Homo sapiens: one gene and its partners. The protein of the gene in region 2 interacts with the protein of the main gene of each other region in a biochemical or structural test. Each region holds a gene or a part of one and is shown on either strand. Other genes may lie near its edges. The genes, in order: INHBA, BMPR2 and GDF6.

Region 1 (10,294 bases), on a different chromosome or scaffold from region 2:
AACTGAAAATGTTCATAGACCCACAAATCTGAGATGCTGGACTTTTGGATGAGTCCAGCATTTTGCATCTTAGTGTAGGGGGAGGGAACAACAAGGGGCTTAGTTGCTTAACCCTTGCCATGCCTTCATGATTGACTTATTCAAAACATTTTTAAAATTCTGAAAGCAAAGGAAAATGTGCTGCAAACACCCTTCCAGCTATCTTTCCTTCCAGCTTACACAGTCTCTCCTCTGTCCAATCCTTCCCACCCAGCAGCATTTCAGAGGTATTCCCTGTGAGGTACAAAATTTCTCTTTGCCCATTTTTCTGCACCTCTTTTTCTCTCTCTTTGGTATGTGTCCACCAAGCTCATAGAGGTTTAAGTGATGAAATATTATCACCCACATGGGTTTGCGTGGGACTTTCTTAGTGAATTACTCAGGCAGAGCAGGCTGTGATACAGCCTTGCTCACAAGCCTCGGGAGGGAAAAAATAGCACAGAGGATGAAAAGAATATTATTAGAGAGCAGGTAATGAAAGGTTCGCAAAGCAACCAGCTATATCTGGTTAGCTAGGTAATAGTGCAGGAACCTAGGTCGCACCTGTACAAACTAATGCAGAACCTGCTCACGGCGCACTATGGGAAGACATTCATTTCAAGAGTTTACAGCATGAGATATTTGAGTAAAACCTGAAACTGATTAGAAATTGATCCTGAACATCCCAGCCTTAGTCAACCTTCCCTTTTTCAAATTGTTATGCATGGAGATTGGAGGATTGGGGCATCTTGAAAGTGTCACTGCAGTATAGCAATCTCTCTCAGGTAATATAGAGATAAAGGGAATATAATAAATTGACCTGTTATTTATTATCTTTTTCATACCTAGGACATTCCGAGGCTTAATATATTTCTGAAGCCTACAGCCCTGATAAACATCAATCCCACGTCAGTTTCCAGCAGTCTCATCTCCCCACACCCTTCTGCAATGAAAGCTAATGTAAAAGAAAGAAATATGCACTGCTTAATAAGTCAGAATACAATAGAACTTGTAAAATGTACCTGCATATAAGGTAGACATTAGGAAGACTTGAATCTCTCTCTTCCCCCTGTTCTCCTGAGCATTATGGCAACAGCATTTTCATGAAATTAGATCTGTTTTATATTTTTTCCTGATAAAATATCATGCAATATACAAATAGCAGTTCCAGAAATGGACACCAGGAGAAGGAGGCGACAGGCATGTCAATTAGTAGGGGGAAAATCCAAATGTCAGAAATATGGGGGAGAGAGAAAGCACGCAGGCAGTGGATGCAAATACAGGGAACAGAGTCTTTCAATTCAGATAATTAAACGGATGCATAAATCAGCACCCTTGCCTCTCTACAATACGCAGGCGATGCCATGCAGTTAATTATCAGCCAAGACCAGCATGAAAGTCATTTTATGATGACTCTCTGATCCTAATATAACAGCACCTGACAGATTGAGCCCCCTCTAATGAGTACTCTCTTTGTACAATCCTCTCTCAGGAACACTAAATCATTTGCTTCCAAGTACAGCTGCCTGTGAAGAAGGGGTGGGGCTAGATCATGCATCAGAAACCTGCTCTTGTGAAATCAGGGGCTGTCCTGTAGGCTGTGTGACTGGAAGCCAGCAGCCTCAGCCTCTCTGGCCCTAAAAAAGCAATTTGCACACGGCTGTCCCTAATTCTAGTCAGCCAAGTAACCCTCCCTCGGCACCCCCACCTAAACATCTGTAGTCAGCCTTGGGTGTTATTCATGGAAAGTCCACTGCATGCGGGTCAGCACTGCTGTCCATCGGCTTCACCCTGACCCCTTCTGGCAGGTGTGGATGAGAGTAGAGCAGAGCTCATGGGGATGAGTTACCCCAAACCTATTAAGCCTCCCTATCCGGGGCACTAGTCAGACACTCCAGTTTTACACTCTTTCCTAGAAAAACAAAACCCAACCTTGTGCCCTCTGGGTTCTCTAATTTAGCAGCTACTATCTGTCTGTTTTTGGAGTGACACCCTGTGCAGTTTAGGATTTCAGAAGCTGTCCTGCATAGAGGCAGAAGGGAAAACAGCAGGTATCTTGTTAACATTCTCTATGGGGCAAGGCAGATGTGCCCAAGCTGGAGGAAACCTGCACACCCTCCAGGCTAGTTATCCAAGGCTTGGGAGGTTTCCCTCGGCCTTCTCCTAAGGCCTTGGCAGGACCCTGCCACCCTAAAATCAACTGCTGATTGCCTTTTTAGATTTAAATGATTAAGCTCTGCTTATGGGAATCTTCTTCTCTTTTATTTTGTTAAGAAACAAACAACAACAACAAAACCCACACCAATTCTTAGCAAAGGGGAATATCGAATTCAGATTTTGAAAAAATAAGTCATCATGCTTCCTAAAATAAGACAGCTTCTCCCTCTAACTGCTCTCTCTGCTCTGGTATTCTATCTAATCATAAACCCAGCTTTATTATTCATTTCAACTCCTGCCAAAGACATGAGGTCGGAGTCAGAGGAACTCCCCTTACCACCGCCACCATCATCATGGCCAGCATCCTCGTAAGTTTATAGAAAGATGCCAGAGAACCTTTCCTATCCATCTGCAGCCCTGCTTGGCCCTTGCCTCAGTGAATTTACCACTATCATAATCACAGTGTGCAGAGTGTGTTAAATTAAGAACAGAATCCACAGTACGCAATGCACAGAAAAGCCTGCCTTCTGCTGCAGAGAACTTGAAACTGTGCCTAAAATTTATAGTACCGTAAACATCTCAGGGCCTCGAGTGATAAGTATGGCTGGATTTCCGTTAACTATAGAAATCCAGGCAGGGAGATCCTCCCAGGGAGTTGCAAGTTCTAAGATGAACTTCTTGAAGATTGTTCCCAGATTTGTGCATGGGATACATGTACAGCAGACAGTTGTAAGGAGGTCCACGGTCATGGAAAAGAGGATATGTTTCTATATGCCACCAAGTGGGAAAAATGGAAGTGAGGGAAAATATTTGATTAATCAAAAAATTTTAGTTTGGATACCTGCTTTCATAGTAATTGTTGCTGTGTCATTAAACATACAGTTGCTTAGGAAAAGAGAAGGAAATAGGTGACTTTCTAATTTTAGAGTTAGGCTGGAACTGAGTGGTTGCTAAATTCAACTGCCCTGACAATGTGGGGATTTCCTGTCCATTAGCAGCGATTGCTATTTGACATATGTTTCTGGTGCCCATTAATCTGCCCTGTAATGGGTCAGAGGCAAAAATGGGGGATTCAGAGGTACTAGGTGGCTCTCTTAATTTAATAGAACTCAATGCTAAGGACGCCTCTATTTGTTAATAAGTAATCAAGTCATTGGCTACTTTCTGCTAAACACTAGACTATGATAGTGACCTTAGACCCCGGGCATTCTAAACCAGGCTGGCAGGAGGGTGGTGGTGGAGGTGATGTGAGGTAAGCCTCCTAGAGGAACTGTCATCCAAACAATCTGAAAATTGAAACATTATTAAAGGCAGCACTAAGGGTGGTATGTTGGAGTTGGGGCAGGAGCACTTAAGGCAGAAGGAACAGCAGGTGTCACTGCCTGCAGTTGAGAAAGGGGGTGGAATTCTCAAGGCCTTAGACCCCAGAGAACAGGACTGGGCAAGAGCTGACATTCAAGGGAGGAACAGCATGTACAGAGCCCAAAGTCCCAGCCACTTTCTGTTGGATACTGAGCAATAGGAATTCAGTAAAGGACTTTCAAGAAGAAGTGATGTGATCAGATCCACCTGTGGGAAAGATGCCTTTAGCTGCTTCATGGAGAAATGACTGGAGAGGAGGCCTTCCTTAGTGTTGCAGAGGCAAAGTAAAGAAAATGCTGCTGCAGTGACCCAGCAAAGAGGTGATGGCGGAGGAATCAGGCTGTGACAAGGGAAGAAGAGGCTGGCTCAAGTGTGTCTCGACTGCACAGACTTACACAGCGAGGTGGGGCCAGGGGCTGCATTTTTGTCTGAGAATAGTATTTCCTTAGCTTTCTAGAGCTTACAGTGTCTTTTTGTTTATGTTATCTCATTTGACCTTCCTAAACCTGTGAGATAACAGGTCAAATGTCCTTATGTCATTCCCATTTTTATAGAAGATGAAACTGAGGTTGAGCAATTAGTCAACAGACACAGACTCGCAGGCCCTCTTCATTCTAAAGCAAGGGTCCAAAACCTTTTTTCTATAAAGGGCCAGAGAGTAAATAATTTAGGCTTTGTGAGCCAGGCAGTCTGTTGCAGCTACGCAGTCCTTGGTTATTATAGTGCAAAAACAGCCATAGGCAGCATGTACAGAAATGAGCATAACCATGCTCCAACAAAACTTTATTTACAGGCACTAATGTTTAAATTTCAGGTAATTTTCACATGTCACAAAATATCACTTTTCTTTAACCACTTAAAAGTATAAAAGCCATTCTTAGTTTGCAGGCAGTACAGAAACAGTTTCAGCCCATGGGCTGTCATTTGTTGACCCCTATTCAAGAGGGTCTGTCACAGAAGACTCCTGCTTGCCTGAAATTTACGAGTGCATGTAAATGTTGGAATTAACAGGTGTGCCTGTTTTCTCTTATGCTGTCTTTCATCTTCAGGAACAGCCAGGAAGACGCTGCACTTCGAGATTTCCAAGGAAGGCAGTGACCTGTCAGTGGTGGAGCGTGCAGAAGTCTGGCTCTTCCTAAAAGTCCCCAAGGCCAACAGGACCAGGACCAAAGTCACCATCCGCCTCTTCCAGCAGCAGAAGCACCCGCAGGGCAGCTTGGACACAGGGGAAGAGGCCGAGGAAGTGGGCTTAAAGGGGGAGAGGAGTGAACTGTTGCTCTCTGAAAAAGTAGTAGACGCTCGGAAGAGCACCTGGCATGTCTTCCCTGTCTCCAGCAGCATCCAGCGGTTGCTGGACCAGGGCAAGAGCTCCCTGGACGTTCGGATTGCCTGTGAGCAGTGCCAGGAGAGTGGCGCCAGCTTGGTTCTCCTGGGCAAGAAGAAGAAGAAAGAAGAGGAGGGGGAAGGGAAAAAGAAGGGCGGAGGTGAAGGTGGGGCAGGAGCAGATGAGGAAAAGGAGCAGTCGCACAGACCTTTCCTCATGCTGCAGGCCCGGCAGTCTGAAGACCACCCTCATCGCCGGCGTCGGCGGGGCTTGGAGTGTGATGGCAAGGTCAACATCTGCTGTAAGAAACAGTTCTTTGTCAGTTTCAAGGACATCGGCTGGAATGACTGGATCATTGCTCCCTCTGGCTATCATGCCAACTACTGCGAGGGTGAGTGCCCGAGCCATATAGCAGGCACGTCCGGGTCCTCACTGTCCTTCCACTCAACAGTCATCAACCACTACCGCATGCGGGGCCATAGCCCCTTTGCCAACCTCAAATCGTGCTGTGTGCCCACCAAGCTGAGACCCATGTCCATGTTGTACTATGATGATGGTCAAAACATCATCAAAAAGGACATTCAGAACATGATCGTGGAGGAGTGTGGGTGCTCATAGAGTTGCCCAGCCCAGGGGGAAAGGGAGCAAGAGTTGTCCAGAGAAGACAGTGGCAAAATGAAGAAATTTTTAAGGTTTCTGAGTTAACCAGAAAAATAGAAATTAAAAACAAAACAAAAAAAAAAACAAAAAAAAACAAAAGTAAATTAAAAACAAAACCTGATGAAACAGATGAAGGAAGATGTGGAAAAAATCCTTAGCCAGGGCTCAGAGATGAAGCAGTGAAAGAGACAGGAATTGGGAGGGAAAGGGAGAATGGTGTACCCTTTATTTCTTCTGAAATCACACTGATGACATCAGTTGTTTAAACGGGGTATTGTCCTTTCCCCCCTTGAGGTTCCCTTGTGAGCCTTGAATCAACCAATCTAGTCTGCAGTAGTGTGGACTAGAACAACCCAAATAGCATCTAGAAAGCCATGAGTTTGAAAGGGCCCATCACAGGCACTTTCCTACCCAATTACCCAGGTCATAAGGTATGTCTGTGTGACACTTATCTCTGTGTATATCAGCATACACACACACACACACACACACACACACACACACAGGCATTTCCACACATTACATATATACACATACTGGTAAAAGAACAATCGTGTGCAGGTGGTCACACTTCCTTTTTCTGTACCACTTTTGCAACAAAACAAAACAAACAACATTAAAAAATTGAGAACAAGTATGGAAAGAATGAAAGATCAAGGAAAAAAGAATACCAAGTTACATTTCGTTAAGGTGCTTATGATCTTAGAACTATGCAACCTAATAGGTTTGAAACTGTTTACCTGAGAGAGAACAAAAAGAGAGACTTTTTTGTATTGGAAGTAATCTGATTAATTTTTATTTTCTTCAAGGAGAGATACTTGAAAGGAATATGTTTGTCCATCTGTTGGATCCAAACATTTCTATATTTTGTAAATGTTGTTGTTGTTTTTTTTTTAATCGTTTACTATTTGCACTACAATGGTGTTTGACCTGTCTAATCCTTATTTAACAAGTATTTTCTTTGGTTGGGGGTGGGGGTGGGGTTTAAGAGCTGCACTTAATGTGAGCTATAAAAGAACTGCTACAGCACACAAAATAGCTATTTTTATTATTATAATTATAATTATTATTATTATTTTGTACCTTAAAAAATAGACACATACACCAAAGACATTTGTGTGAGCCTTTAAACAGTCTGTCTGTGGTTGGTATCATTCACCATCAATGAGTCAGGGGTTGGGATTCAAGGTTGAGTAGTGTGGATTGTGTTCAGGCTTAAAAGACCTGAGAAGTTTGGTTTTTGACTCCTTTTACATCCATGAAACAGGACATTTCATACTGGATGTACAGTAGTTGTACACTGTTGGATATCAAGTTCAATCAAATTCATGGAACTACATGCTTGTATGTGTATATATACATTGCTTGTGCATATGCATATCTGTATGTATATATACATGTATTGTACCATGTCCATACACATTTTAAGCACTTCAGGCTGTCATTTTTTAATGTTCTTAAAGCAATGAATGTTTGTGTGCAAAACACAGTATTTTTAAGAAGGATAGGCTATAGTTTTTGCTTTTACTCTGAACTAGGTGGGCGCATTTCAAAAATTCGGATGGGAAAAAGCCTGGAAATTCCAGTGAATATTCAGCAAGGCCCTCTTTCATTGTACAGGGATCAAATTTCCTCCTCTTTTTTGTGCCCCCTCCCACTTCTACAAGTTATCCCCTGTGGGGAAAACAGGATGATAATCAAAACTCTGGGCTGATGTTTTTCCAACTTAGTGTCTATTGGAATCAATCTTAAATCAGAAGCTTTTTCAGAAAAATAATATTTAGGCCAGAATTAGAGTTGAGTGTATTTTTTAAAAATGATTAAGGCTTGGTTGTGAGAAATATTACCTGTACCAGCTGGGAAAAATAATGTCATCACTAACTAAAAGATAATTAATTTGAGAGAAAGTGTTAAGAGAGGGAGAGTAAGGAAGAGAACAGTTAAGAGGAGGCAGAGGTGAGGGCAGTAGTAAAAATCTCTAAAATTTTAATTTACAGCCAAAATTCTTCATGTGTAAATTTGTATTGATTCAGATGCAGAAATGAAAAAAAAACACCTTTGTTTTATAAATATCAAAGTACATGCTTAAAGCCAAGTTTTTATCTAGTTTATTCTAGTACTTAGCTTGCCTGGAATAGCTAATAAATTATTCATGTATGTGCTTTTGAAAATCCAGAGCCCTATTTTTACACACTTGTGTGAAGTTGGCAAACATTTTGAAAAATGGAAAAAAGTTTCTAATAATTGGGAACAATTACATTAATTAATATTTTGTAAAATATTGAAGCTTTTAGCCCTATGTCAATTTGTAGATTAAAATAAATTAATTATAGGAAAGGAAGATAACAGTGAGAAACCAAACATTACAAAAGGTGGTTTAGCTCTCCTTGAAAAATATACTAAGTTGGTATACTATAACACTTGGCTATATGTAGGCAATGTCACTACTGGGCAAATACACTTACTGTGTTCTAGAGGCAGCCCTTTCTTATGCAGAAAATACAATACGCACTGCATGAGAAGCTTGAGAGTGGATTCTAATCCAGGTCTGTCGACCTTGGATATCATGCATGTGGGAAGGTGGGTGTGGTGAGAAAAGTTTTAAGGCAAGAGTAGATGGCCATGTTCAACTTTACAAAATTTCTTGGAAAACTGGCAGTATTTTGAACTGCATCTTCTTTGGTACCGGAACCTGCAGAAACAGTGTGAGAAATTAAGTCCTGGTTCACTGCGCAGTAGCAAAGATGGTCAAGGCCATGGAAAAAGCAGAAATTTACCAAGAAAGCTGATACCCATGTATAGTTCCCACTCATCTCAAATACATCTGCTATCTTTTTAAGCTAAGTCCTAGACATATCGGGGATAACATGGGGGTTGATTAGTGACCACAGTTATCAGAAGCAGAGAAATGTAATTCCATATTTTATTTGAAACTTATTCCATATTTTAATTGGATATTGAGTGATTGGGTTATCAAACACCCACAAACTTTAATTTTGTTAAATTTATATGGCTTTGAAATAGAAGTATAAGTTGCTACCATTTTTTGATAACATTGAAAGATAGTATTTTACCATCTTTAATCATCTTGGAAAATACAAGTCCTGTGAACAACCACTCTTTCACCTAGCAGCATGAGGCCAAAAGTAAAGGCTTTAAATTATAACATATGGGATTCTTAGTAGTATGTTTTTTTCTTGAAACTCAGTGGCTCTATCTAACCTTACTATCTCCTCACTCTTTCTCTAAGACTAAACTCTAGGCTCTTAAAAATCTGCCCACACCAATCTTAGAAGCTCTGAAAAGAATTTGTCTTTAAATATCTTTTAATAGTAACATGTATTTTATGGACCAAATTGACATTTTCGACTATTTTTTCCAAAAAAGTCAGGTGAATTTCAGCACACTGAGTTGGGAATTTCTTATCCCAGAAGACCAACCAATTTCATATTTATTTAAGATTGATTCCATACTCCGTTTTCAAGGAGAATCCCTGCAGTCTCCTTAAAGGTAGAACAAATACTTTCTATTTTTTTTTCACCATTGTGGGATTGGACTTTAAGAGGTGACTCTAAAAAAACAGAGAACAAATATGTCTCAGTTGTATTAAGCACGGACCCATATTATCATATTCACTTAAAAAAATGATTTCCTGTGCACCTTTTGGCAACTTCTCTTTTCAATGTAGGGAAAAACTTAGTCACCCTGAAAACCCACAAAATAAATAAAACTTGTAGATGTGGGCAGAAGGTTTGGGGGTGGACATTGTATGTGTTTAAATTAAACCCTGTATCACTGAGAAGCTGTTGTATGGGTCAGAGAAAATGAATGCTTAGAAGCTGTTCACATCTTCAAGAGCAGAAGCAAACCACATGTCTCAGCTATATTATTATTTATTTTTTATGCATAAAGTGAATCATTTCTTCTGTATTAATTTCCAAAGGGTTTTACCCTCTATTTAAATGCTTTGAAAAACAGTGCATTGACAATGGGTTGATATTTTTCTTTAAAAGAAAAATATAATTATGAAAGCCAAGATAATCTGAAGCCTGTTTTATTTTAAAACTTTTTATGTTCTGTGGTTGATGTTGTTTGTTTGTTTGTTTCTATTTTGTTGGTTTTTTACTTTGTTTTTTGTTTTGTTTTGTTTTGTTTTGCATACTACATGCAGTTCTTTAACCAATGTCTGTTTGGCTAATGTAATTAAAGTTGTTAATTTATATGAGTGCATTTCAACTATGTCAATGGTTTCTTAATATTTATTGTGTAGAAGTACTGGTAATTTTTTTATTTACAATATGTTTAAAGAGATAACAGTTTGATATGTTTTCATGTGTTTATAGCAGAAGTTATTTATTTCTATGGCATTCCAGCGGATATTTTGGTGTTTGCGAGGCATGCAGTCAATATTTTGTACAGTTAGTGGACAGTATTCAGCAACGCCTGATAGCTTCTTTGGCCTTATGTTAAATAAAAAGACCTGTTTGGGATGTATTTTTTATTTTTATTTTTATTTTATGTCTTATTTATTTTCCATGATCAACTTTGCACACATATTGACACATCCTTTGCTGGGTGATAATTTTGTTTTTACTGTAATTATCCAGAAGAGGATGAGAAACAGACTGAATGTGGGAGATAACAAAAGCTGGAGTGAGAGAGCTCAAGTAGAAAAAGAATAGATTTTGCCATGGCAGAGGCTGGTAATGGGCTGCAGATGCTTGGATCAGCAATATTTATATTTTATTCTTTTGTTGATTTCCCATTTCTTCA
Region 2 (11,275 bases):
GTGCCCCTCTGTCCCTTCTTAAAACCAGGACCAGTCCTCCAACTGAAGGCAGAGATATCATCCATGAGGGGCTATAATACATAGTGAAGATCAGTTTCGCAGATGCTGTTAGTCTGTCCTCTTGGATTTCTGTGTTGTTCTCCTTTATTTCCTGCTTCCTTACCCCTACCAGGAAAAAAATCCTACTTGTTGGGGTTTTGGTGATTAGAATATTGGGGATTATTTTACCCTTGGATACTATGTTAGTCATCAGGGCTGTTCACAAATATTCAGGTTCTCTTTCTCATGACATGGTAGGATTACATTTTCTGCCCTCTTTTTTTCTTTTTTTTTTTTGAGACTGAGTCTTGCACTGTCGCCTGGGCTGGAGTGCAGTGGCGCGATCTAGGCTCACTGCAACCTCTGCCTCCCAGGTTCAAGCGATTCTCCTGCCTAGGCCTCCGGAGTTGCTGGGATTACAGGCACCTGCCACCACACCCAGCTAATTTTTTGCATTTTTAGTAGAGAAGGGGTTTCACCTGTCTCGAACTCCTGACCTTGTGATCTGCCCGCCTCGGCCTCCCAAAGTGCTGGGATTACACGCGTGAGCCACTGCTCCCAGCCTCTGCCCTCTTAAAGTTAGGTTTGGCCATCTGACTTTGGTGGCCACTAAAATATGAGTGGAAGTAAAGCACACTGCTTCTAGGTGGAAGCTTTTTAATGGCTACAGCAAGACACTGCAACACTAGCAATTAAATTTTATGATCCCTACTGTCACAATTTTGAAAACATGTGTCTCAGTGAAGCCTCTACCAACCTAAGGACCTCAGTGATTAAAATGAGAGAGTCCATGCAGTGGACATTTTGCTGAGCTCCCCAGATCCACCCTTTAGGTCTAAAGCATTCTTTCTCCCAACTGCTGGAACTGCTGGTGGCTGACAGTGGTCAGCTGGGTCCCTCTCTGGGGGTAGCTGTTGGCTAAAGAGAGCCCTTTTATCAAAGGTCACGTCTGTCTTTTTTTTTTTTTTTTGAGATGGAGTCTCGCTCTGTCACCCATGCTGGAGTGCAGTGGCGTGATCTCGGCTCACTGCAAGCTCTGCCTCCCGTGTTTCACGCCATTCTCCTGCCTCAGCCTCCCGAGTAGCTGGGACTACCGGCGCCTGCCGCCACGCCCGGCTAATTTTTTGTATTTTTGGTAGAGACGGGGTTTCACCGTGTTAGCCAGGATGGTCTCGATCTCCTGACCTCGTGATCCGCCTGCCTCGGCCTCCCAAAGTTCTGGGATTACAGGCGTAAACCACCGCTCCAGGCCGGTCACATCTCTTTCAATATGTGCAGCCCACATCCAGTGACTGGTTGGTGTGAAGGTATAATTTTACTGGGTTTTGCCGGGCGCAGTAGCTCACGCTTGTAATCCCAGCACTTTGGGAGGCCGAGGCGGGTGGATCGCCTGAGTTCAGGAGTTCGAGGCTAGCCTGGCCAACATGGTGAAACCCCATCTCTACTAAAAATACAAAAATTAGCCGGGCATGGTGGCACAAGCCTGTAATCCCAGCTACTTGGGAGGCTAAGGCAGGAGAATTGCTTGAACGCGGGAGGCGGAGGTTGCAGTGAGCCAAGATCGTGCCAATGCACTCCAGCCTGGGCTACAAGAGCGAAACTCCGTCTTTAAAAAAAAAAAAAAATTTACTGGTTTTACCCAACTTGGCTAGGCAGTCTGTCTAATGCTGGATTTCCTACTCCAAGGCAGCATTCAAGGAGCCTAAATTATCAGTATACTTGAGGGACTTTTTCCCTAGATGTACTCCACTGAAGGAATCTTGAATGAAAAGCTTGCTGGGTTTGGGGGGTCTTTTAGGTGTACCTTAAAGTGTTAGCAGACACAGATTAGGACAATGCTGAAAGGCCAGCCCAGCTCCAGAATTCCTGCAGGATTGATTGATGCCTCAGTTGCAAATGTGTTGCAATTCAACTTCTCCCTCTGCCCAGTCTTGCATCCCTCAATCCCCACAGAGGTTGCTCTTGCCATCATTAGGTAATAACCTCCTGCATACAAATTTCAGAGTTTCAGTGTCTATTTCCTGTGAACTCAAGTTGCGATGGGTCCCCTGATGACTTATATCAAACATGTAACATGTGTGAGAAATAAACCTTTATTGCAATAAGATGCTGAGATTTGGTGAATGTTACTGTAATTTAGCCCATCCTAATTAGTACAGATGCCAAACCTCACCTGCATCACCAGTCCTTTGTTCTCAGCTGAGCTTGACTTACATTGTCTGCCTTTTGTCGTGGACAGGTTTCTTGCCAAGTCTTAATTCTGTTCTTTGATGTTCTTTCTCACTGTGAGTGAACAGCCATGTCCCAACTGAAATATCACAAGAAGGAACAGAAAAGGGAAGAGGGTACATATCTAGTTGTCTACCTACCAAGTCAGCGGCATGTGTTTTTTCTTGTGAATTTCCTAAGACCTTTTCTTTATGTTCTATATAATTTATCATACATTTATAACATGTACGGTAGTCCTCCCTGCCCCTTATCCACAAGGAACTTGTTCCAAGACCTCCAGTGGATGCCTGAAACTGCAGACAGTACTGAACCCAATTGCTATAAACTGGAATACATTTCTATTATGTCTTCTACCCACAAATTTAATGCCTTTTCCATCTTAACTAAGCACTTATTACACATTGTGGCCATCACTTTTGCAGTTTGAGGTATGGCAGCAAAACTAGCATGAATTTATTTTTTCTTCACAATTCAGTTTCACAGATAGATTTTTTTTTTTTTTTTTGCCAGAGTCTCTATCGCCCGGGCTAGAGTGCAATGGGCAACCTCCACCTCCTGCGTTCAAGTGATTCTCTTGCTTCAGCCTCCGGAGTAGCTGCTGGGATTACAGGCACGTGCCACCACTCCCAGCTAATTTTTGTATTTTTGGTATAGACGGGGTTTCACCATGTTGGCCAGGCAGGTCTTGAACTCTTGACCTCAAGTGATCCTCCTGCCTTGGTCCCCCAAAGTGCTGGGATTACAGACGTGAGCCACTGCACCCTGCCAAAGATTCATTGTTACCAGCAATCTTAGCAACCTCAGCCTATAATTTTTTTCCCTCCTTATTAAGTCAAGAACTCTGACTTTTTTTTTTTTTTTTTTTTTTTTTTTTTTTTTTTTTTTGAGACAGAGTCTTGCTCTGTCGCCCAGGCTGGAGTCCAGTGGCATGATCTCGGCTCACTGCAAGCCCCACCTCCCGGGTTCATGCCATTCATTCACTGCCTCAGCCTCCCGAGTGGCTGGGACTACAGGCGCCTGCCACCACGCCTGGCTAATTTTTTTGTATTTTCAGTAGAGACAGGGTTTCACCGTGTTAGCCAGGATGGTCTCGATCATCCTGACCTTGTGATCTGCCTGCCTCGGCCTCCCAAAGTGCTGAGATTACAGGCAAGAACTCTGACGTTTTAACTTACAGGAAGCACTTTACAGCTTCTGTATGGCTGAATTGCCAGCATCACTACTCTTGTGCTTTGGGGCCATTATTAAGTAAAACGAGGGTTAGTTGAACACAAGCACTTGGATATTGCATACTGCCACAGTCAGTCTGATAAGAGACTGCTACTAAGTGATTAAGGAGGTTATAGCGGATACACTGTACAAACCATGATTCACATCCCAGAAGGACAGTGTGGGATGGCAGCGATTTCCTCACAGCTAGTTAGTAACAGTACTCAATTTAAAATTTATGAGGCCAGGCGCAGTGGCTCACGCCTCTAATCCTATCATTTTGGGAGGCCAGAAGGGCGGATCACCTGAGGTCAGGAGTTCGAGACCAGGCTGACCAACATGGTGAAACTCCATCTCTACTAAAAATACAAAACTAGCCGGGTGTGGTGGCGCATGCCTGTAATCCCAGCTACTCAGGGGGCTGAGGCAGGAGAATCGCTTGAGTCTGGGAGGCGGAGGTTGCTGTGAGCTGAGATCGTGCCATTGTGCTCCAGCTTGGGCAACAAAAGAGAAACTACGTCTCAAAAAAAACAAAAACAACAACAACAAAAAAAAACACCACTTATTATTTCTGGAACTTTCCATGTAATATTTTCAGACCGTGGTTGACTGCAGGTAACTGAAACGGTGGATAAGGGGGAACTACAAAAAGGACACTTAATGTTTCTTGGAAAAAATCTTAAGCAAATAAAAATTGAATGATGAAGTACTTGATCTCAATTTGAGGAAGATAAAAGTGTACTACGAATTAATAAACTTTAAACTTTCTGCACCTCTAACATACTAAAATCCAATTTCTCTGAGTGCTAGAAACTCTCAGTTCTTGAAAGACAAATGGTAAAACAATACCGTTTCTAATTTAGACCTTTTGGGCAAAACAAAATACAGTAATAAAGCTATAAAGAATCGGTCGGGGGCGGTGGCTCACGTCTGTAATCCCAGCACTTTGGGAGGTCGAGACGGGCGGATCACGTGAGGTCAGGAGTTCGAGACCAGCCTGGCAAACATGGTGAAACCCTGTCTCCACTAAAAATACAAAAATTAGCCGGGCGTGATGGCGCCGCCTGTAATCTCAGCTACTCGGGAGGTTCAGGCCGGAGAATTGCTTGAACCTGGGAGGTGGAGGTTGCAGTGAGTCGAGATCGCGCCACTGCACCGCAGCCTGGTCGACAGAGCAAGACTCCGCCTCAATAAATAAATAAATAAATAAATAAAACCTAAATAAATAAAGCTAATGAATCAAAGCATATGCTCTTCGTCTTTTTAAGGGATTTTACTAGGTAGAATTTTTTTTTCTCTGTCTAAAGGGTAAACAGCATAAACATATTTCAACTAAAAAGAGTCTTAGAATCCGGGGTTGGTATTGCTACAACCCCTAATTATGGAAGATGTTTAGTATAACAGAACCAGTTTAAGGAATGTGGAGATTTATTTACATCAAATTCAGATAAAGAGGTAACAGCGGACTAGAAGAAGCAAGCAGAGCATGACTTAAGGAGTCTATCTATGACTGTATCTGTGGAACTGCCCTTAGCCACAATGAAAGACCAGCAAAACCAGCCTTCAGCATAACCCTCCTGCCTGGTAGGAGATGGGAAGGCCAGACTTCACCCCTCAAGATCGCCCTCCCACGCGCATTTTCCACCTCGCAGCTAAGAATTCAGTCCAGACTTCCGATCATGGCGCCACGCACGTCACCTTCTCCCCTCGCCGCCAGCAAAATCCCACCCACGTCGGCTGACCCCGCAGCGGGGTGTAAGGGCGGGAGGGATCCCGTCTCCTATACTGGTCGCTTGTACAAACCAGATCCAAAAAACGCACTACACAAATCCTTGGAAACTGCGGTACCAACGGGATCTTCTCAATTCCTTGAGTGCAAAATGATCCCACTCTCTATCCCGACACAACTCTAACTCCATTTTCCTTTCACGTGCCCTAAAAAGCCCTCAAGGCCCCCAGCCTTGGTGAATCCAGGCCCTCTCTCGGGGTGGGCACCGCGCTGTACGGACAGACGCGCGCACGCAGCGGGACGATTTATAGAATTAAAAGTCTTTTTTTTTTTTCTGGCTTCGCATCCTTGCAAATACTCAATATTCCTGTCAACTAAGAAGGCTAAGGGAATGGGCGGTTGAGGAAAGCAGGACGTCGATTACAGCGAACACATCAAAGGGGTGGTCTTTCCAATTCCGGCTTTTGTTTGAGTCAGAGGGGAGCCTGAGGAGGCCAAGGTCTCCGGTTCTGGGAAAGGCGGGTCCATCCGGATTCTTTGGGCTGCGGAGAGGGAGGTTCCAGCCCCGTGAAACAACAGAGGGCAGTTCTGCCCCTCGAGGCTTTCCTCCGAGAGTACTGAGACGGAGACGCCTCAGTCGGGAGAAATCCCGGAACTCGGAGGAGTCTGCTGAACGCCGAACAAAAGGATGTGGCCGTCGTCTCTTAAACAAATACGCGAATCCCAAGCCATGCACATTTGGAAGGCATGTGTATGTGTGTGAAGGAGAAAGGCCACCGCTGCCCACCGCAGCCCCACCCAGCCCTCGGCCATTCACCGGAGAGACGCGCTGCGGTGGGGCCTCGGAGCCCTCAGCCAGCCCCGAACGAGGGGCGGGGCCGGGCGGGGCCGTGAGCGCGCAGGCGCAGTGCGGGCTTCATCCCGCCGCCGGCGCCGCCGCCGCCGCCGCCCGCTCTGCACCACAGGCTAGAGACAGACAGGGCCGGGAAGAGCCGGAGACTGAGGAGGAGGCGGAGGCGGCGGCGGAGGCGGGGCGACTCCGGTGACCGGGAGCGCCGCAGACTGGCAGCTGCGGCGACTCCCCCCTTTGTGTCTGGTCTGCTCGGAGCCACTGGAAGTGCCTCCCGGAGGGACGCAGGGTGTCTCGCCGCCTCCCTGCCCACCCCCTTCCCCGGCTACCTTCATCCGCCCTCCCGCCGCCCCCCGCCCTCGGTCCGCGACGCCCGAGTTCCGTCAGGAGCCCAGAGCTGCGGGAGAACGAGGCGGCGGCGGCGGCGGCGGCGGCGGCGGCGGCGGCAGCAGCAGCGGCTTCCTCGGGGGGTTGTGATTCGCTCACAGGAGCCATTGACGGGAGAAGAGGAGGCTTTCTTGGTGGAATTTACCTCAGGCAAGATCGAGCCGCAGGAATAAAAAGCGAGGAAGGGAAGGGAGCGCCGCCGGGAGGACTAGAAGGGGCAGCCTCTCACACCCACTCCGCCTGCCGTCTCGGGGAGCCCGGACCGGGGCCGCGACCGCGACCCCTCCCCTCCCCCGCTCCTACCTCTCCTCAGCCTTCGCCAGGGCCTCCCCAACCCTCTCACGGTTGTTCTGCGAAGGCGTGGGGACTGTGAGCTTGTCCATGGAGGCAGGCACCTTTTTTGATCCAGTCAAGGAAGAGGATTTGTTGTTTTCGAAATCAGAGTGAAGGAAGCACCGAAGCGAAACTTAAGGAATCCTGCCTTCCCGGAGCCGCGGGCGATGCGACTAGGGCTGCCGGGCGCCGCCGCCGCCCGTCCGGCTTCGTCCTTCCCGGCAGTCGGGAACTAGTTCTGACCCTCGCCCCCCGACCCCGGATCGAATCCCCGCCCTCCGCACCCTGGATATGTTTTCTCCCAGACCTGGATATTTTTTTGATATCGTGAAACTACGAGGGAAATAATTTGGGGGATTTCTTCTTGGCTCCCTGCTTTCCCCACAGACATGCCTTCCGTTTGGAGGGCCGCGGCACCCCGTCCGAGGCGAAGGAACCCCCCCAGCCGCGAGGGAGAGAAATGAAGGGAATTTCTGCAGCGGCATGAAAGCTCTGCAGCTAGGTCCTCTCATCAGCCATTTGTCCTTTCAAACTGTATTGTGATACGGGCAGGATCAGTCCACGGGAGAGAAGACGAGCCTCCCGGCTGTTTCTCCGCCGGTCTACTTCCCATATTTCTTTTCTTTGCCCTCCTGATTCTTGGCTGGCCCAGGGATGACTTCCTCGCTGCAGCGGCCCTGGCGGGTGCCCTGGCTACCATGGACCATCCTGCTGGTCAGCACTGCGGCTGGTGAGTAGCTCCGGCCGGCACGTCCCGGCCACTGCCCCTGCGGGTGGCGAGGGAGGGAGCCCGCAGAGGCCGAGGCCTGTGCTTGCCCTTCGCCATGCGTCCCCCCGATCGCGGTGCAGCGGAGCTGCGACCCGGTGCCTGCGCGCCTGCCCCATGCCTTCCAGGGAAATCGCCTTTAATATTCTTGTGTATTTTCCTATCCCCACTTCCATATTCCCACCCCACCCCCCTTTACGGGGTGAAAAAGACATATTGGGTGTGGTATCTTGACATTTTTAGCTGTGAGGTAATGCAACGATTAAAAATAATATTTTAATCACCAGTGAACAGTGCTTATTATGAGATCTCTGGAAACAGACCTGTAGATTTTTAAAATTATTATTATAAAGAAGCGGTTTTGGCTTATAGTAAAAAGAACATCAACTAGAGAACACACACTTGAACCTTATTTTGAAATTTAGATCACTCTGGGAATCCATGTTCCTTTCATTATTCAGAAATGTTACCGAATGAATAGAATAAATGTTGAGGAAGCCAGAACTGTGAGATTCTTGATATATTGTATTATACGGTTTGATAACTTTACTGTTAGTCATCTGGCATCTATCTATTGGCTTTGCTGTCGAGACAACTTTGACCTGACATTAGACTTCTAGGAGATTTGACTCCGAAAGTTCTTTGACATTTCACTAAAGTCTAAAGGGTGGTAGTCATCCTTTCCTTTGGATATTTTCATTTCAGTTCTCAGAAACCTTAGGAAAAAGACCTTATCTTCTATTTGCAACTATTTTTTCAAGCAGCCTTTTGGTGATTTGCTTTTAGAAATTTTCAGGAGTGAATTCTACATATAACTCGTACACTTGGTTTATGATGGGCAAATGGATTGTGCTTTTAAAACGAGTAAAGGACCAAATGACCCTTTCGAATTACTTTTTTTCTTTTGATAAGTGTGTTTCACATTAAACAAATTTCTCATTGCTATGTTAGATACAGAGGTTACTTGCTTATTTTCATTTTGAAAGTCTGATCTAGGAAAATGCCGAAGAAAATTTGAAGTTTCCTTTTATGCTTTTGCTATTGTTGAATAATGTCTACTGTTGATTAATGTCTGTTAAATTGATGATAAATCTATATGGTTCTGTTAAAATAATTTGAACTTCTGAGTTTACTTTAAAACTGATATTTTAATATTTTTAATAATTGTAGTTGCTTTCAGAGTAAAAATGATTTTTCTCTAAATTTCTTTATATTGTGTTAGCTATTTAAATTCTCTAGCCATAAGCCATGTGGTTCCTGTAAAATATGGAGTAAAAGGCCTTAAACGTTCCATGAGCAGAAATCTCAGAACATAGGCTTTTCAATGTTATTTGTTATTCTTAACCTTTTTAGAATATAGATTCTCATTTATGATGACGTGCTCATAATATTGTGATCAGAACTGATAAAAGTAAGAGAAAAAGCATTTATTTAAAAATAAACTTAATTTTTGTTTGGTAATACAATCATCTTAGAATAGTGTCTCTTAAAAGGGAGAGAGTAAAAGAATCACTGCTTAAAAGTGGTTGTAGTCTTTTTTTTCTTTGGTATTGCATAGCACCAGATGACAAAATTTGTGAAGCTGGATTTCAGACCTGTAACAGTAATGATAATAGCTAGTATTTATTAAGTGCCTGCCATGCACCATCAGCTATTCAAATAACTTTACATATATTTTTTCATTTCGTCTTCATGACAATTCTATGTTGTAGGTTATTATCATTCCCCTTTTCCATAGAGGGAGAGTAAAGTACAGAGAATTTGAATAACTCACCACACAGTCAGTAAATTATGGAGCCAGGATTATAGTGTGCGCCCTCACATACCACATTAATGGTAACAGCAGCACTAGCAGCAACAACTTCTCATCTTATTGGATATATGAGATGGAGTAATTAGCCTTCACCAGATCAACCTTTGTAAAGAAGCAGGGACACTTACAAGGTGTTAGTGCAGCAGTGGTTATGCAAATGTCGTAGTTCTGAACATGTAAAACTTTGCTTGGCCTAATATTGAAGTGGCTAGTGCAGCTTCATTAAGTGCAAGCTGATTAGAGAGGGCCTGTGTGGATTTGGGTTACACAGATGCAGTGATGTTAACTCGACAGGCGCAAATGGTGCAGCTGAACAGGAAAATAAATCCTAGAAGACTGATTGATAGCACATCCTTTTTCGGGGTCATGGATAAATCATTTCTTTTGATTCCCTCTTTCTCACTTATTGAGTTCTTGGACTCCTTAATTCTTAGAACATTTTCTTTCTTTCTTTCTTTCTTTCTTTCTTTTTTGTTCAGACAGAGTATCACTCTGTCGCCCAGGCTGGAGTGCAGTGGCACGACCCTGGCTCACCACAACTTCCGCCTCCCAGGCGCAAGTGGTTCTCCTGCCTCAGCCTCCAGACTAGCTGAGATTACGGGAGCCCACCACCATGCCCAGCTAATTTATTTTTATTTTTTGTATTTTTAGTGGAGACGGGGTTTCACCATTTTGGCAGGGTGGTTTCGAACTCCTGACCTCGTGATCCACCTGCCTCGGCCTCCCAAAGTGCTGGGATTACAGGCATGAGCCACCACACCCCGCCTAATTCTTAGAACATTTTCTATGCCCCCCCCAAAAAAAAAAACAACTTATGAAAAATAAGATGTGCTGGCTTGGTTTATGAATGAATTCTTAATAAAAGAATACAACACAGCTATTATTTAAAGGTCAACTTCTGTAATGCGTTTTAAATAATTCACTTGATTAGATTGCAATTTTACATACATCTCTTGAGGAACACACACATTATATAAAGTAAGATTAATCTAATGTTAGTGAATATTACTGAGTAACTGAAGTTTAGTAATCTTCATTTTAGTTTTTCTCAAAGTGTGGGTACTGCAACAGAATTACCTGGGGTTCTTGATAAAAATGCATATTTTTGGCCCTATAGTCCAGATGTACTGAATGAATCTCTCTGGGAGAACCCCCGCAAAGTCTCACTCAAGCAGGTGCTTGAGAAGCACTGCTTTATATCATCAGTCCTGATTGTTTGGATTTCTTTCTTTTTTTTTTTTTTTTTGAGTTTTGCTCTTGTTGCCCAGGCTGGAGTGCAATGGTGTGATCTCGGCTCACTGCAACCTCCACCTCCCGGGTTCAAGCAATTCTGCCTCAGCCTCTCGGGTAGCTGGGATTACAGGCATGTGCCACCACTCCTGGCTAATTTTGTATTGTTAGTAGAGACAGGGTTTCTCCATGTTGGTCAGGCTGGTCTTGAACTCCTGATCTCAGGTGATCTGCCCGCCTCGGCCTCCCAAAATGCTGGGATTATAGGTGTGGGCCACTGTGCCTGGCCCTGGCCCTGGCCCTGGCCCTGGCCCTGGCCCTGGATTTCTTTCTTTCTTTTTTTTTTTTTTTTTTTTTTTTTTTGAGACAGAGTCTGGCTCGGTCACCCAGACTGGAGTGCAGTGGCGCCATCTCAGCTCACTGCAACCTCTGCCTCCCGGGTTCAAGTGATTCTTCTGCCTCAGCCTCCCAAGTAGCTGGGACTACAGGTGTGCACCACCACACCCGGCTAATTTTTGTATTTTTAGTAGAGACGTGGTTTTACCATATTGGCCAGGCTGATCTCAAACTCCTGACCTCGTGATCTGCCTGCCTCTGCCTCCGAAAGTGCTGGGATTATAGGCATGAGCCACCACGCCTGGGCTGGATTTCTTAAATATGGTGATTCAGTGACATTTTGCTGTGTAATTA
Region 3 (10,294 bases), on a different chromosome or scaffold from region 2:
TGCTGGGGCAGATCTAGGGCATGAGACAGCCTTGGAAAGCCCTGGGCAAAGCCGGCACTAGGGAGTCCCACAGTCTGAGGAACTAGTCCGCGAGCGGCGTCGGGCAGCCCCCTGGTCCTGGCGCCGCGCGGGTTTTCCGTTGGTCCCTGCGCTGGGTGGGATGGTCAGCCGGGCTGGAGCCCTGCGCCCTCCGGCTTTTTTGCTCCAGCGTGGTGCTCCCGGCTGCTCCGAGGCCTCAACACGAGTGGTTTCTGCAGATGCGGCGGCAGCAGTTGGGCGGGCCGGGACAGGGACGGCTAAGTTCGGAGGTTGTGGGTACTTAATACACAAAGGTACATGGGTATGCCCATCCACCTTTCTCAGCCAGGCGACGTTCCTCTCTCTACGCTATTCCTGAGGGCTGGTGGGGGTCTGGGAAATCCCTGGTACCCTCTGTGGGAACGCCTGCATGTGTGGGTGTCTGCGGAAACCCTTGCGGCCCCTTCTTGCCACCGGCGTTGATCTGCAGCGTGGCCAGTGCCCTCAAGAAAACCTCGCACCACCTCTGGTCCCAGAAATCAGGGAAGGATCCACAGGCATCGGAAACTAAGCTCCTAAAGGAGAGAGACAATAATGTGGAAGGAGACAGGAAAGGAAGGGAGAAAAAGGAAAGGAAGAGTAAAGAGAAGGAAGGAAGAAAATGACGGGATAAAAGCGATTTAGGCAGATATCCACTCCTCCATCCTCCCTAGACTTAGCTCCATGACTTTGACCTGCTCCCAGTTAAGTGGGGTTGCCCGGAAACCTTGCAGCGCTGGGGTTCGGGATTCGGAAGCTGCTTCAGCCACTGCTACCCTGGGTGCTCGCACATCTCTTAAGCTTTTTAGAGCAGGCTAACGGCCCCCCCGCCCCCAGCCCCGAGCTCTTCCCCGGCTCCAGTCCCCGCCTCTCACTCATAGTCGCGTTCCTTGCTCGAGGGTCTCGCCGCTGCAGCCCGAGGTCAGCGAGGTTCATGAGCTGCTGAAAGGTCCAGAGGGCAAATTAACGCCAGGTATTTTATGATGATTTTAGGGCTACTAAAGTCACCTTTGCAAAGACATGTGGCTTCTTCGTAGTAGTGCAACTGAGTCCCTGGCCTCCGTGCTGCCCGTGCAGCTCGCCAACCCTCCCCACGACGCACGCCTTGCTACAGTTGTTTCTGTCCCTCAAAGTCCTCTGTTAATCGTGCACTTTCTCTACTACAATTGCGGAAGGAGGCTAAGGAAGCTCAGAGAAGACTGCTCAAGAGGCCCTTCCTCAAGAGAAGAAGTCCCAGAGGCCTAGGCTGGCCGGCGGTTGGGCGCGGATTTTCTTTGCCCGGGAATGAAGTGGCAAGAATCTCTGCCCCTCCCCCAAGTGGGCACCATAACTGGTTCGCTGCGCCCTGTGAATTTGGCACAGGACCAAAAGACCCTGCGGGCTGTTCGGAGGTGTCTCCGGAAGCCTGTGGCATTCAGACAAGGGTTGGGGAAAAGTCTTGGGGGCCCCAATCCGGCGTAGACGCGAAATCACTTTACCCTGGTTTGCCCTGTAGCCTCCCCACCCCCATCCCCGCCACTGCGCTGTATGCCCCCGATCCTGGAGATAGAGGAGGGATTGCATGTGCACCCAGTCTGGGGAGGCCTCTGTTCCCGAGCCAAGGCCTCCAGACTAGCAGGACCGAGATCCACAAGTACCGCTACAACCCCGGAATGCGGTGGAGGGCTGGGGATGCGAGCGGTCCACAGCGGGAGGAGACGCTGCATGACCACCCGGACAGCATCTTCAAAGGCGCTGTCTCCTCCGCGTCTCCGGGTTCTCAGAAAATGCGAAGAAAGGCAGTTCGTTGACTGGGAAGGCGGTGCGGCTTGTCGCACGCCGCGCGGGGGTGAAGGAGTGCGGAGCCACGGGCGGGAGGGGTGCGCAGAGGAGGGGGTGCGTTGCTGGCTGCAGCCCCAGCTTGATAAAGGGAAAGCCTCACTTTCCCTCTCACTGATTTTGATTTGATGTGTCACCGGCGGTGACCTCAGGCTGGACCTTCCGGGGCTTGCTTAGCATCGGGCCCCTGATTGGAGTGTTTCAACTCAGCGATCTAATTGAGGGTTCATGTCATAACACATCAAACGGTGTCTCGTCTCCCGTGATGGAAGGGACCCGCCAGCCGCGCATCCCCGGCTCCTGGCAAGGACTTCCGCCCCTCTCACGTGGGGCTCTTAACCGCGCCAACCCCCCTAGGGTCCCCTCCCCCAACGCGTGGACGGCCTGGCGAGGAGGAAAGAGCAGCGGCCCGCCTAGAGCTGGGCCAGCAGCGCTAACTTGGCGCCTTGCCTAAGGGATGTTTAAATCGCCGTCGAGTGGGGCTGGCCTGGCTCGGTGGAGCCGGGGGTCCCCCAAGGGGAGGAGCGAAGAAAAGGAAAGGAGCCCCGAAGTCAGTCCAGGAGGCATGGGCGACTTGCTCCTGTACAGTATCTGTAAAAAGCCTTCCTTACCCCGGAAACCCCAAAGTTACACCTGAAGCCTATGGTTGAGAGTGGGAGAACAGGCATAAACTCTGCCCAAAGTGAATGAAGGACGCTTTAGGTTTATAAAGAAAGCAAGTTCTGTACTCCATCCCAGGCCACTTCTCCCTATCCTCCAGGAGGAGAACTTATTGGGGAAAAAAAAAAGAAACCAAACAAACCTAAAACAGGTCCCTTCTTTCAGTATGCTCTCCAGACACCTAGGAGTAATAATAGTAACCACGATTTATTGAAAATTTACTGTGTACCAAGCATTGCACTAAAATTGGTTACATGAATTATCTCGCTTAGTTATCACAACCACTTCCTAGGAAAACGCTATCATCACCACGTTTTACAGGTGAAGTAAAGAAGACAGAGGAGTTAAGCAAGTTGCTCGAGGTCACACAGCTAGCGAGAGGTGGGGCCTATATAAGATTCGAGACCCTGCATGTTTAACTAGAGCACTGTATAGATAGTTTAAGTGGTGAGGTGGTTTCTAATGGATGATGACAAGAAGCAGAAGTCAAAAAATGGAAAGATTTTCCCCCAGTCTAATATTTGTCTGCAGTCACTTAAGACCCAGTTAGGAGTGTGAGTGAAACTAGATGTGAGGGTCTGAATTTTGGTGTGCTTTGCTTCCTCCTGTTCTTATTTTAGCAGATGCACAAACCATATTATCCCTGATTTTTAAAAATGCTCTTATATTGTGCTTTAAAAATGATGTTGGATCCATAAAGGTGAGAAGGTGTGTGCCTGTGTGTTTAGGTGCCATCATGGGATGAGAATGGACAAGGTTGGATATGATGAAATTACAATTTGCTCATGAAATAACTCATTAAAAGGCTACTAGTACTGGGGCCCTGGACCCCCAGCCCTGGGGCCTGGGAAAGCCAGACAATTAGTTCTATGAATTTAGCAGGGCTGAGAGATAGAGGGGAGGGAGGAAAAGAGAGAGACAGAGAGAGAGAGAGAGAGGGAAAGAGAGAGAGAGAGAGAGAGAGAGAGAGGGAAAGAGAGAGAGAGAAAGAGACTGACTGATTCAGACTTTCAGTTTATGTAGGGAAAGGTGCCACATAATTCCAACAAGGAGAAAAAACAACTCTCAAGAATGAGAGAACCGAAATGAGTCTAAGACTATTGCTGTGAGTTAGGTTTCCAGATGGCTTTGAAATAAGAATACCCTTTACTTTTTTCTTGTTGTAATAATATTCTCAAAAAGGAGGCAGTAAGGAACAGATAAAAACCAAAACGAGATGGGAACATCCTTGAAGAACTTGATGCCCTAGAAATAACTCTCAGGACAGTTTGCCACTGATTGTTTGTTGGCTTCTCCATTCACCTTCTGGGTCGTGATTACCAAAGGGCAGAGCAGGACCATTCTGGGAATAGCCCGGCTGCGGGGAGGGCATTCAGAGAGTTGCATAGTCCCCTCGCGATTGAAGTTCATCTGGTACCTCATGTTATGCAAAACAGCGGGTTTCTGGGTGGACCTGAGCCGCAGAGTGGTGTAATCAACTCAGCAGTGCTTTTGCCGGTACCCTGTTGTCGTTGGCAAACCGAAAATGAAATATAAGCAGGGAAGTATTTTAATGGGGACGGAGGGAATTCACAACTGTTAATTATTTGGTGACCTTGTATTCGATTTGTTTGAGTCCCTTATAAAAACACTAATGCAGACCAGACGGCCAAATGAGGAAGCTGGGCAGAAGGTTCCAATCTAGGCTTTATTTCCCCGGAAAGAGGGAACAGCCTTGGAAAAGACTTGCTAAGCGTTCAAGTGTGTGCGTATGAGGGTGCGCCTGCATGAGCGCGGGCACGGGGTTTGTGCCACTGTCCAGGCTCACGGTCCTCCTCCAGCCAGGTGAACTGGAAGGTCCTGCAAAAAGCCTGGGGGTAAGGGAAAGAAGCCTTAAATTGGAAGTTTGTTTTGCTCTTCTGGTTCGAATAAGTAAGGCACGTTTAAGGCCACAGACCAAACTCTTAGGCACTGACTTGCTGTTAAACATCAGTTATTGTAGTTCCAATCCTTAAGGCCTTAAGGTCTGCCTTACAGGGAAAAGCAAGAAGATTCTAAAAAGAAAGAAAGAAAGACCACCTAGTATGCTCTACAGCGAGAGCGCAGGTTGCGCAGGGATTCTTGGCGAGTTTCCTTGGCAAAGGAGGCTAATCTGAGACGGACATAGCGTTTTCCTCAACGCGGGAGGCTCTCGGGCCTCTGGGAGTTCGCGCGGTGGAGTTGCCGATGGGGGAGGGGATCTAAAAACGTGCTCAAACATCCTTGTGGTTTCTGCGCATTAAAAGAAAAAAGTCACTCAGACCACAGATCACGACAGGCCTGGCGAATCCCTCTTCTCCACCCTCCCCACCCCCCAATTGAATCAGGACTTGAAAGCTCCTCTTTCCGACCGGAGAGGATGCGTGTCACCTGGACCCGCGGGGAACGCAGGGCACTGCATCGGAGGCCCTAACACCACATGTTTTTCTTAGCTGGAGTCCTTGAGGTTCTTACACACCTCCTCGAAAGTGGTGACGTCTTTCTGGGGCGGTGGCGGAGAAGGAAGAAGGGAATGAGGTGGAGACTGTGGGGAGGAAGATGGTATGATAGAAACAGGGCAGAACGAGAACTTTTGTTTCCTGCTAGGACTACTGCGTGCACCAAAGGTCTTAGAGCAAATCAACAGTAATCCCTGGGGGCTTTTAAGTAAAAGGAAAGCCATTAGTTCGATAACCCCTCGGGTATTGAATAACCCGGGTCAAACGACACTCTTTGGACCAGGGGACTGAATCGAGCCGAGCCCTCGAGGTGTGGAATGCCGGAATGTGGATTCACCGTGCCATTCCGTTGCTTGACATCCCTCCATCCCCCACCCCAAGGCCTGGCTGTTTATTTTTAAACTCTAAGTCGGTTAAATAGTATCTCCTGTTTACAGGAATTAAATAGGTCCTCCTTGGACTAATGGGTTCCAGGGTTGCAGTTCTCTGCCTTCTAAGACAGTCCATTAGCATTGCTGGGGACTGAGGGTTGGGTCCACTTGGGGTGAGGGGCTGCAAGAGCTTGGAAGGGGCGGGCGGCGGGCGGCGCTGGACAACGTTCCTAGGGAAGCGCGCGCGGCGGCGCTAGTGGCCCCGGCGCCTGGGGGCGGGGCATGGTTTAGGGACCCGAGAGTGGGCGTGAAAGAGGCCAGGGGCGGGCCTCTAGCCCAGGCTGGTTTAGCTTGGGGAGAAGGACAGAGGACGGGCACAGGGGCAGCGCAGGGGATTGGCTTTAGTGGGGTGCAGAGGGCATCCCTTAATAACATAGGAGCCCAGGAGAATCGGTGCGCCTGCTTTGCAAACCTGGCTTCCAGGCAAATTGGTCCAGCCTCCCACTCCACTTCCCAGCCCACTGCCGCTCCGAAGCTCAGCGTGGAGGGAAATTGACTAGGAATAGACTAGGGCCCACGAATCTCACTTTGCTAAATTGTTTCGAAAGTCAGACCTAAATGAACACCGCAGACAGAGATTGCGGCTCTCCCTTCCTCCCAGACTGCACACGGCCCAGCACCTTAAAGAGCACAGCACAGCGGTTTCTCCTGCGCAGGACCCCTGGGTGCTGAGTCCAATATCCTCCCCGCGACTACAAGCCAGTTTGAACCCTCGCCCCCACCTGCAAGCTCAGAACTGGTCAGGGAGCGGAAGTCACATAAAATGAACACCCTTCCTTCTACTTTTGATCTCAAAACTGAAGCCATGCAGCCCGATCATATTCCAGCTCCGATGGCAGTTTGAGGATTCCTCCCTTTCCGCTCCCCTAGCCTTCGTGGAGGACCTGGTTGCTCCCCTGGGCTCCCGGGTGACTTACCGGTCGACAGTGCAGGGAAGGCCGCCCCTAGCCAACCCCCCAGGTCCCGGCCCCAGGGGAAGGGCAGGCCGCGTGCGCGCCTCAGTGAGATGGGGAGGGAGGGCTCAGCGCGGGAACAGTACGAGAGCTTCGGTTTGGGTTTCATCTGCAGTGATGTCAAATTAAGATTTGAGCCGCTGTGGTCGGGAGCCCAGAATGGGACCCCGTTGAAAAGAGAAGCACAGTGAAGTGCCCTTGATCTCAGCTTTGCCTCTCTGGCCCCTCAAGAGAGCACGCAGCCATCAGGGTCATTAACTAAGTTCAGGAAAACTGCTTTGTAAATGAATCTGTTTCATCCTCTAGAGACAAAAGGAGTTTCCTTAAAGCGCCTTGGAGCTCCTGATAGGGTGAGCAGCACTCACGGGAGAGGGCTTCTCCCCAGCCAGCACTGCTTGTCAGAAACAGGCACCCTGGGGTTAGAGCTAAGGCCACTAAAGGCGGTGCTGAGGCCCCGAGGTGAGGGGTGCGAAGCTGTTTTCAGTTGGGTGGGATTCGAGGATCTCCTTTCTTTTCTTTCTCTCCACTCTCATTCATTTGCCTCACCTTGAGCCGCAGCTTGCTGTGCCCATACAGGGATTTCTCCCAGGGATCCAGGCAGGCCACTAGACCCACTTAACTTGTGGAGTCTACAAGGCCCAGGCCCCTCAGGAAGAGAAGGGCCTGGGTCTGGAGGCCTGAGGGAAAGAGTGGAAAAGCCTCTCCAAGACTCCGTGGAAGACTTGCCTTGGACCCCTCTGGTCTTTGGAAGCAGAAATACAGGGCAAGCTATTGGGGAGGGCACTGGGGAAGCCAAGAGACATGAGAAAAGCTGGACTGGTGAATGTGTGATGAGAAGGAACACACACTGAAGACAGACCCGCCAACGAAACCTTCGAAAGTGACAAGCACCACAGGCCTGGCCTCATGCTGCAGCCCAAGGGGCCCTCCATTGCAGCCCTCCCCATCAATATGTGTCTGGCCCTTTGCACAGTGAAGATCAGTAACATCTGCCTCCTTATCCCCACCCCAGACTGGCCCTGTGGTCAGATCGTGCCCCCACAAAAGGACACCAAAGTGGGGAAAGAAACGAATCCTTAGGCCTCTCAGGGCTGCACTGCCAGCCAGGGAGTCATTTGGGTTAGCACAAGGGCTGTCACTGGCCTTGACCCCTGCAGAAGAGGAAACCTGCAAGAAGGGCTGGATCCTTGATGTGGCTGGGGTGGAGGTCATCTGTTCACCTGGCACTGTGGGAGGGACAGCAGTGGTGACAGGGCCTCACAGGACTGAGAAGAATCGGGATGATGAGGTGAGGCTGCAGCCTCCATGAGCCTTGACTTTCACTTGACTTCAGATAAGCAGGAACTGGAAGCGTCTTCATCTTTCTCATGCTTCCTAGCACCTTTCCTCCACTCACTTCTGGAATCTTGTGGAGAGAAGTGGACCACAAGGACTGAAGTCCAGAGAACTGGATTTCAAAGGAAGTCAAGAGAAGGACAGGTGCACCTTCCCCTAGAAGATGTAAGTAGTCACAGAAATATTGGCTGCATTCACTGGACGTCTCTATGTACTATGCACATCCCTGAGGTACTTTGACTCTGACCTTTACAATGATCCTGCAAGGTACAGGTGGTTCTCTCATTTTACAGCTGAGGCATATGAGGCTGGGAGAGATTATGCGACCCAGTCTAACCAAGGTCACCCAGCCACTAAGTCACAGATCAGGACTCAAATTTATGTCTCTTAGACTTTAAATTCCTATGCTCATTCCACATTGTCAGTAGTGACTGACATTTGCATTCAGAAGTCTTTCTCTCACACCTTATCTCATTTGCACCCCTCTGTGGCCCTGTTAATTTTCCTCCTAAATTCTCTTTCACAAGTCCAATCATCGACATTTCTTCTGCTGAAGTAATGACTGCTGTAGTTCTGCTGAAGTGAGTGACTCTTGCCGGCCAGGGATTGATGCCCTCCCTCCAGGCATGGGCAGCATGGAAGAGTTTCTCAGGGTTTCTACAAGGCACAGAGATCAGGGCTGGGATGTCTAGGGTGGTGGCACAGATACTGGAGCCAGATTGCCCACTCTACTACTTAGTATCTTGAGCCAGTTACTCAAGCTGTCTCTTTTAGTTTAGAATGATGGCTGTCTCAGAAGTGGTTTTGAGAATTAAATGAGTTACTACAAGTTAAGAATTTAGATCATGCCCAGAACAGATTTAGTGCCACACCAGTGTTTGCTCTTAACGATTATTATGCTGGGGGATCAGGCATGAGTATTGGGGTTAAGAAAAAGCACCCTGGAAAGGGTGAATTGTATGGACTGCTTCCCGAACTTACATCTCAGTAAGAATGTTAGCAATGCGTCAGCAGCTTGCAAAGCTCAGATCTCAACAGAGGCCTGACTCAGGATGAGTATCTCCTCAGGGGGAGGCCCAAGAGATCTGTATTTCAGGAAGAGGGTACATAGTTGGCACACAGATTCCCCTTAAAGCCCTTCACACTCCAGGAGGAGGGGTTGGTGGCTCATTTTTAATCACCCAGTACACCTGGCTCTATTTCCAACCTGATGGACTTTGCCCCCTCAGTGCAGCGCGGAAGGTGAGAGACTTAGTTGAGAAAATGACTCCAAGCCCAGTCATGAATTTTGAGCTTGGAGGTCTTCTTTGTAGTAAAGAAAAGAAAAAAAATCCTGGGGGAACCCAGCCCACCTTGATTACACTAATGATGAAGCTATGTCCTATTTCCTGGCCCCCTGCCAAAACAGGACCCTGGTAGAGCAGCATGGCTGCAGGACTGGGGTCAGAGTACTTGGAATTAGGACCTTCAACACCTGTCTCTTGCGCTGCAGGACTGGGGTCAGGGCACTTGGAATTAGGACCTTCAACATCTGTCCCTTGCTAGTTTCAAGACAATGGGCAAGATACCTCTTAGAGCTTTAGTTTCTTCATCTATAAGTGAGTATCACAGTAGGCCTGACCTTAGACGTTCGCTGTGAAAATTCAGTGAGAGAGGCCATCAAAGCTCTGAGCACGTGCCTAGCACAAAGGTGGTGCCCTACAAGCGCTCAATGCTGCTGCTGGCTCTAAAATGAGGGGGTAAGGGAAAGGCGCCTAGAGTTTCTCTTGCAAAGATGGGTGATTCTCCCTGCCTGGGGATTGGGGATGGGAAAGTCCACTATCTTCTCGACTTTCTGGACAGTGGCCTAGTCGCGGGGCCTGTGCCACCGGAGAACATGGCTGGGAGGCGTGGCGGGACGCCTGGCCAGTAGCTATCCAGGGTCACTGCGTACTCAGAGATGTGAGCCAGGTGCGCGCGGAGGAATCTCGTGGAGCCCAAAGTCAGCCGTACCAAGAATCCTGCAAGTCCGGGAAGTTGGAGCCGTGGGTGCACAGCCAGGCGAGTGACAAAATCCAACTAGGACTTTCAAAAGGGACCTCAAGCTGAGTATATATCTCAGAGATGTCTTGGGAAAATGCAATGCCAGGCCCTTCCCACCTCCAACCAAAGGAAGTTTCTGGTTTTTGGAAACCCTCTACAGGCTAGCCCAAGGAAGTAGCCCCCAGCAGAAGGCTCTGGGGCTGGAGTGGGCAGGCTGGAGTGGGCAAGCGCACAGAGTCCTGCAGCTACGTGTCCCTCCCTCATGCCGCCCTCTTGGGGCTCAGGTTCCCCGGGCGTCTGGCCTTTGGCGTTGCGGGCATCTTTTCCTTTCCGCTCTGGAGTTTGCCACTCCAACTTTCTCCAGCCACGTACTGTGACCGTGGACAGATGCCCTTTTCCTTTCTAGGCCAGTTTTCTCATTTAAAATGGGTGCAATGGTAATTACTTTGCAAATAGGTACCATTCCTTCTCTTGGTTTCTTTTTTTAGTTAAAATTTTATTTTTTACCTTATATTCACCCTAACTGAAAATTTGTACCCTTTGACCAACATCTCCCCTCTTT

What was found.
Region 1: the proteins of BMPR2 (region 2) and INHBA form a complex in vitro, tested with the Homo sapiens proteins (one study listed by BioGRID).
Region 3: the proteins of BMPR2 (region 2) and GDF6 form a complex in vitro, tested with the Homo sapiens proteins (one study listed by BioGRID).

What each region holds. Positions count from the first base shown.
Region 1 is NC_000007.14:41,684,835-41,695,128, reverse strand, and holds the end of INHBA (inhibin beta A chain preproprotein), read left to right. Parts: intron 1-1,040; exon of another isoform or gene 1,041-1,210; intron 1,211-4,586; coding exon 4,587-5,479; 3' UTR 5,480-10,015; downstream 10,016-10,294. UniProt on the Homo sapiens protein: Inhibins/activins are involved in regulating a number of diverse functions such as hypothalamic and pituitary hormone secretion, gonadal hormone secretion, germ cell development and maturation, erythroid differentiation, insulin secretion, nerve cell survival, embryonic axial development or bone growth, depending on their subunit composition.
Region 2 is NC_000002.12:202,370,045-202,381,319, forward strand, and holds the start of BMPR2 (bone morphogenetic protein receptor type-2 precursor), read left to right. Parts: upstream 1-6,282; 5' UTR 6,283-7,430; coding exon 7,431-7,506; intron 7,507-11,275. UniProt on the Homo sapiens protein: On ligand binding, forms a receptor complex consisting of two type II and two type I transmembrane serine/threonine kinases.
Region 3 is NC_000008.11:96,149,589-96,159,882, reverse strand, and holds part of GDF6 (growth/differentiation factor 6 preproprotein), read left to right. Parts: intron 1-10,294. UniProt on the Homo sapiens protein: Growth factor that controls proliferation and cellular differentiation in the retina and bone formation. Plays a key role in regulating apoptosis during retinal development.